Linked DNA regions of Homo sapiens. The protein of the gene in region 2 purifies or fractionates together with the protein of the main gene of each other region. This does not show direct contact. Each region holds a gene or a part of one and is shown on either strand. Other genes may lie near its edges. The genes, in order: DHX32 and SSX7.

Region 1 (3,823 bases), on a different chromosome or scaffold from region 2:
TACTTAAGATGGACCTGGGAATGTACATGGCCATGGCACCATGGACAGAAGACCCTCATTTACCCTGTCCTGTCCACTCATGCTGCTCGGAGCAACCACAGCATGTACTTAGTGTCACCCATTCAGCATGCCCTCAAAAGGTGCCACCAGATTCCTGTGTACCTGCTGGCTCCACTGACAACTTTTTCTTCTCAGCTTTGAAACACTAACTCCCTGTTCTTTATACAATTCTGTCTTTCAAATTGCTGTCATATTTTTCACACTACTTCACATATTTTCACACCATCTTTCAGAACAAAGGAGGTAAAAGATGCTTCATGGAAAATGTCAGGGAGGGACCTTACTGGCTGCCCTTTATGGGTGGCTCTAGCCTCTGCTATGCTGCTTTGCCCTGTTTGCCCCCTCCTCTTGTTTCTGTCTGCATAGCAGCTTCCAGTTGACTTCTGAGTACCTTCCTGTGACAGGTAAGCTACCCACTGCCCTTCAGGCATACAAAGGACTTTGTGGCTTTGCTTTGACATGCGCCATTCTCTTCTCTGGACACCCTCTGCTCTCCTCTATCAAGCTCCGTCAGCAACTCTGCAGCCTCCCCTCAGCACCCCAGCCTACCTATTCTGCACTAGTATCTGGAGCTCTGCAGCCTCTCTGCATGCACGTGGTGAATGTGCCAGGATACGGAAGGTGCACAGCACAACTCTGACAGTGGGCACGTAGAGGTGGCTGTTCTTGTCTTCCTCCAAAGACCCATGTACGAGTCTGTGTCCCCCGTCACCATGCCCCAAGCAAGCTTGCTCTGAAGGCTGGCTGAGTGGAGTCCTGGAGCTCTGGAAGTACAGGCCCGCCATGGTGGCACACCAGAGCTCCGTGGGAGCAGGGGGACTGAGCATCTCCCACTCTGCAGATGCCTGTGGGTGCGTTTAGGGCCTCAAGTGCCATTGCATTCAAGTGGCCAGTAGGGCTGGCGAAGAATGTTTGATGAATAACTAATAAGGACTCAGACTTATCTAGGGAAAGGAAGGTGGAATTAATAGGTAGTTTCTGAGCATTCACTTACACTCACTGCTAGAATTCAGAGTTGTGTCTTGGTAAGCCTTGTAAATGCTGATGAGGGTAAAGTGATCTCCTTCGGGATGTAAAAATGTCTTCCAACAAGTCAAGGCAGCCTCTTCAGCTCCATGTGGCACATGTGAAAAGCAATTTGGAGCTTCAAAATGAAAAAGGTCACATGGTTAGCAATAATGAAGACATTTTATCTTAGCCTAACATGCAGAGGGGAGGGGTCACGACTGTTAGTGGCATGGCTCCTGTCTTGGTACTCTGAATAAATATGTTATTCTTGTTTACTTAGAAATCCCAGAAATTTAGAGTGAGTCATCCTAATTCTCCCTCTCCTTTTGTGTGTGTGTGTTTGCTTTTCTAAGGTCAACTGAATATGGTTAATATCCTGCTTCTATTCCGGCAGGAGCAGGGAAAACCTGAGGTGCTTGGAGGTCCAGACACAAGAAGAGGATTGGAACCAGTTCCGATACAGCACAATGGTTGGTCTGTTCCCCCAGTATTAGAATAAATTAAAACATACAAGCCAGGATGAATGAAGCCAATAGGAAATAAAAAACAGGCACACAACATTATTTGGGGAAAAACACCTCTAGTGACACATTTTCTTCATCTGCACTGATTATTTCAGCAAAAGAAATCTAGTATGTTTTCATACATCTGATGTATAAATTTGCTGAACTTTGAGTTAGTTTTCTTAAGATAATTTTTCATATTAAGAAAATTTTCCTTTTCTAACCTATTAAAATACCTCACTATCATTTCAAAAGGTTAAATGAGTTGATCACTATCTCTGCTCTGTGCTCCTCAAAATATAATTTCAAATGGATCCGATCTAAATCTATACCTAGTGCAGATTTGCAAAAAAAGAAAAGGAATAGTCATTAAGGATACCTGTTACCATGGCTGCGATTGTTAGCACTTCATCTACACAGTCAAATTCACAGGACGCTAAGATAGACTTCGAGAGTTGTGGATCAAGAGGAAACTCTGACATGATGATTCCAAATTCAGAAAGATTTCCATCATTATCCAGTGCTGCCAGATAATCTAAGTCTTCCAATGCCTGCATCAAACTTTCTGGTGCTAGGAAAGGAAAAAAATAATAATTTAAGAGTCTCATATGGCTAAGATGGAGAAACAGGTACTGGACTTTTCCCTCCTGCATGAAACAAGCAAACAATGGACAAAATATGTGAAACAACGGTTTGCAAGCCACCAAATACCAGGGAGTGAAGGATAGTGATTCTTGAGAGGGCAAACTCAGGAGGGGAGCCCTGTGATTGTCCAGCTCATGCTCCGAGGAGGGTCCCAGCTGCAGTGTGCATGCGGGGGGAACCCAGGTGGAGCCTGCCAGCCTCCCTGCAGTAGGAAAACAATGCCAGGGATCCAGGGAGACTAAGGTGGCCGGAACTCGCGGTCACAGTACTGGAGAGAGACACACAGATCTAAGTCGGGGGCCAGAGGGAGCTCCCTCAACTAGGCAGCACAGCCCTACTGATCAGCGCATGTGTGTAAGGAACCACCTCAGGCCAGAGAAAGAGCCATGTGAGAAGATTAGAAGGAACAGTGGTGCTGACACAGGACCTAGGGTAGGGCCTGTTCCCACCACCCTAGCTGGAAAACCTCATGATTTATGGGGCACTGGGTAGAAAACACAAGTGAGAAACCCTAGATGGGCACTGCCACCTGACACAGCTATACAGCAGGACCTGAAAGGATCACACTGCATCCTAGGACAAAGCTCAAAAGTACCTCTGGGACTACAAAAATATTCAGTGCCCAAGAAGGTAAAATGTACAATGTCTAGCATCCAGTAGAGAGGCATGAAAAGCAGGAAAATACATTGCATAATACAGAGAAAAATTAATCACAACTGACCTGGATCTCAGATGCTAGAAATAGTAGACAAAGATGTTATTTCCCAGTGCAAATAAAGAAATAAAGATAGCAAGCTGATTCTCTCCATCTCTTTATTTCTTTTAAGTTTATGTAACATCGATAATGATGTGGTATTATATATGCTCAGTCTTTACCAAAGTTTTTAAAAATCCATTTATTTAAAGAAATATATTCTCTTTGTGGAATAAGGCTATATATAGATTGGTGCAAAAGTAATTGCGGTTTTTGCCATTACTTTCAATGGCAAAAACCACAATTATTTTTGCACCAACCTAATATTTATTAAATAAATACATGTGTTTTGTCCACCCTTCTGGTTCCTGGTATAGCAATACAGGTCACACAATGAAGCAAATCCCATAATAGAAAGCTGCTGTATTGTTATACCCCAAAACTGCAGGATTTATGAGCCACTAGGTTGGTTTTGTTTTAGTTCCAGTAAGTGCAAGGTGGGCAGGGGCTGAAGACTCTGGGGCCCTAAGAAGCGCTTGAACCTGTCTGCTCCTGGGAGTTCAAAGTAACATATGGTAAAAATTTTCTTATGTGCTGTCTAAACTTTGATCATTAAGCTCTATGTCTAAATTTCAGGCAAACTGAGTAGCTCAAAAACCTCACTTTGGGAGGCCGAGGCGGGAGGATCACCAGGTCAGGAGATTGAGACCATCCTGGCTAACACGGTGAAACCCCGTCTCAACTAAAAAAATACAAAAAATTAGCCGGGCGTGGTGGCAGGCGCCTGTGGTCCCAGCTACTCGGGAGGTTGAGGCAGGAGAATGGCGTGAACCCAGGAAGTGGAGCTTGTAGTGAGCCGAGATGGCACCACTGCACTCCAGCCTGGGCGACAGAGCGAGACTCCGTCTCAAAA
Region 2 (3,823 bases):
CCCAGCCTGGACCCAGGCTTGTCTGGGGTCCATGCCACACACCCAGTCCACACACCTGAACATAGCCACGGAAGCCAGAGGGTTTGTTCCCGAATTCTTTCCTCTTACCGGATGTCTTGTTAATCTTCTCAGAGGTACTTGGTTTTCCTGGAGGGCACAGGTGTTTCCCATCGTTCTGTGAGCCAGATGCTTCTGGCACTCCCTTCGAATCATTTCCTTCCTCTGCTGGCTTCTTGGGCATGATCTTTATAATGTGAAGGTCACAGATAAACAGAATCAGTGACATTTCTATAGTGCTTTAGAGCTTACAAAGCGTCTTCACATGCATTACCTTAATCAATGTTCTCAACAATGCTGGGAGAGTTACACATGCCTAAATTAGGAGAAACCTGGGAAGTTAGACGGGAAAGGAATGGCCTATGTGAATATCGTTTCCAGGGCTAGAATGCTTATCTTCACACTCTTTAAGACTGACATTCTTGCAAACAGTAAAAATCTCCATGCAATTGAGAGTTTGGTATACAAAAGATTGGAAGAAGGATAGCATTTTTAAAATTCACAAGGTCTACAAAAGGAAGAGCTTCTATGAAATACAAGGGATCTCATATAAGCTCTTAGCTGCTGGGAGAGTAAATGTAAAAACATAGAGAGGGGACAAAACACTGCTGGGAAAGATGGTGTGGGGAGATTAATACAGGGAAGGGAGAGGTAAAGAAATGGTTTGCTAAAATTAATCTAGGCAGCGAAGAAAGCAGTACCAGATCTGGCATACCACCCTACCGAGGCACCAACACTGAATGTGGAATTCAGTGAGGTGGTACCCATACCAATTCTGGTTGCATTGGGATGTGTCACTGACCAACAATCTTAAGCTACTTTTTTTTTTGTTGTTTTGTTTTGAGACAGAGTCTCACTCTGTCACCAGGCTGCAGTGCAGTGGCACGATCTCAGCTCACTGCAACATCCAACTCCTGTGTTTAAGTGACTCATGCAACAGCCTCCAGAGTATCTGGGACTGCAGGCAGGCGCTACCACGCCCCGCTAAGTTTTGTATTTTTAATAGAGATGAGGTTTTACCATGTTGGGCAGGATGGTCTTGACCTCTTGACCTAGTGATCCATCCACCTCAGCCTCCCAAAGTGCTGGGATTACAGTCGCTAGCCACCGTGCCCCGCTCTTAATCTACTTTTTATTCAGCTTCCTTGCTTATGAGATAGTGAACAATACATGTAAAATAGTCTACGGGAAAGTCCTCTCTGAGCTTGTAAACACTGTTTAAATGCAGTAATAATAACAATTAATACCTTTCATGATCCTTCCTTCAATTCGGTCTCCACACTAGCAACCCAACTCCCAGATCCCTTTACCCTCTAAACCAGAGTTGAATCTGCACTTGTGGGGTCACTCATTCAGGGGCCTCCGAGGGATCCCCTGGGCTGGGATGGGGGCTTCTGGGATGCCCCAGGTGCAGACAAGGTCCTCAAGGAGCTCACAGTAGGGAGGGGCCAACAGTCAAAACGATTCCTAAGCCATGCAAGTGGTCCCAGTAACAGAGCAGAGGCCAGCTGGTCTTTCCTATTGCGAGAATGGGTGTCTCAATGGAAGCACCAGCAGGCCCTATGGGGTGAAGCCCTAGTGAGCAACATCTGAACTTCATAAACAAATGCAAACGTGAATGAGCTTTAAATGGCTTGGAGCTCTGGATTAGACTACCACTGCCACTGTGCCCCAGGAAAATTATTTAACATATCTATACCCCAATAGCCTCATTTTATTATTATGTTGCTGATAACTACGATTCTTTACTTCCATTTCATGGACCAGGAATCTGGAGCTCAGAGAACTTAGAAGACTTGTGCCAAGTCACATGGCTTTTATATGGACGACAACCGAAGTGTGTGACTCATTATTATTTGGAGATAATAATAGAAACAAAGTCATACAGGTCTTCTTAAGGATTAAATACATTAATCCATGTGAACTGCTTAAAATAGTATCTGGCATCACTATGAAAACAAAAGATGTATTAAGGATCACAACTGTTAGTATTATTAAGCTGTTGGTGCTACATCAGGTGTTGTGATAGACATGGGGAGAAGGAGGCAGTGAGGGCATTTTTTATATTCTCCCACTCTTACCAGTGTTTGCATCCATGGAGGGACAAAGGTTCTCTGGTCCTTTAGATCTGAGAGACACTCACCTTCGGGAAGATTCTCTGGAGCCTGCAAAAAGTCATCTGAGGACGTTCAACTGAAAGAGAATATATCAGAATTTTTCTTTGTTGGTAAAGATTTCCAAACTCTAGAGACTTCTGTAGCATCAGGGTATTCTGCAGCAGAGTGTTATGAGTCCACTCATTGTTGAGGAGTTATTTCAGTTTTGCTTCTGAATTATGTTTAGTCATGGTTGATTCATTTATCTGTGGCATCAATTCAGAATTTTCCATCTCATGGTTTATCAAATGGGGACTAAACCCCATCACAGTCTCATCTTATTCCTTTACATATCTTTTATTTTTTTCCAAATAATTAAATTGATTGGTTAGGAATCTGAACTGTATCCACTCAAGATGTGCAACAACTGAAAATCATTGCACACTTCAAATGGGTGAATCTTATGGTATGTGAATTAAGCTGTTAAATGTGTGATGAACCATGGATGATTTAGTCCAGTGGCTCTGAGATATTTTCAGTATAAAGACAGTCCTTTAATGTCAAAATCTTGGCAGACACCCAAGCACTGGATTTTCAGATCTCTTACAGTGATCGTGGGAGATTTTAGAATCTGGCCTTTTTAGTTGGGGAGTAATAGGTCTATTGGAGACAGTTTGGACGTTCTGACCTTGTCTTATAATTGTGTTGTCAGAGCAGAAGAGCAAGGAAACACATATGTGACCCCTTTATATTCCCAAAACGTACAAAGATCTCTACCGAAGAACCTGTCTTTTTTTCACCCTATGTTATCTCTGCTCTCTGGCAAGTGGGAAAGCTCTCTCTGTGTGTTGGATGAGGGATCACTCTTTCAAACTCTCTTCCAAGCTCATCACGGAGAATCAGGGTTCTTTGGGAATGAAAAGACTATTTGGCTCTGATAAAATACAGAGAAACAGCGATCTTTATTACATAATGTGTTCATCATCCTCACTCCTAAGATACCTATCCAATACCTACATGCTGTTAATGAGACAAACTCTGGAAGTTTTTGGCGAATCTACAGTTGTAACATTTTCTTTCTTCTTTTTTTCTCTTGTAACATTTTTTTAGCAGTCCTTTGATTCATTAATGGTGCTTAGGAAGAACAACATGTCATCTAAAAAAGAAATATTTCAAACACACAGAAAAGTATGAGGAATAATATTGAGTCCAGTCGGATCTCAACATTACCCCACAGCTATGCTAGGTTTGATTTATTTATTCACAATATTAGAAAAACTACAAACAGGCCGGGCATGGTAGCTCACACTTGTAATCCCAGCACTTTGGGAGGCTGAGGCAGGTGGATCACCTGAGGTCAGGAAGTTTGAGACCAGCCTGGTCAACATGGTAAAACCCCGTCTCTACCAAAAATAAAAAATGAGCTGGGTGTGGGGGCGGGCACCCGTAACCCCAGCTACTCCGGAGGCTGAGGCAGGAGAATCACTTGAACCCAGGAGGTGAAAGTTGGAGTGAGCTGAGATTGCCTTATTGCACTCTACCCTGGCCGAGAAGAGTGAAACTCCATCTCAAAAACAAAAACAAACAAAACACACTATCAACAAGTCACAGCTGAAGCTGTCTGTGCAGCACTCAGCAATCCCTGCCCGCCCTCCCTCCTCCACTTACAG

What was found.
Region 1: the proteins of SSX7 (region 2) and DHX32 purify together in Homo sapiens (affinity purification with mass spectrometry; one large-scale study listed by BioGRID and IntAct). This does not show direct contact.

Annotation. Positions count from the first base shown.
Region 1 is NC_000010.11:125,839,793-125,843,615, forward strand, and holds part of DHX32 (putative pre-mRNA-splicing factor ATP-dependent RNA helicase DHX32), read right to left. Parts: intron 3,011-3,823; exon of another isoform or gene 2,143-3,010; coding exon 1,951-2,142; exon of another isoform or gene 1,568-1,950; coding exon of another isoform or gene 1,463-1,567; intron 1,205-1,462; coding exon 1,055-1,204; intron 1-1,054. Other genes in the region: BCCIP (BRCA2 and CDKN1A-interacting protein), read left to right, coding at 1,463-1,538.
Region 2 is NC_000023.11:52,648,153-52,651,975, forward strand, and holds part of SSX7 (protein SSX7), read right to left. Parts: intron 2,251-3,823; coding exon 2,201-2,250; intron 245-2,200; coding exon 109-244; intron 1-108.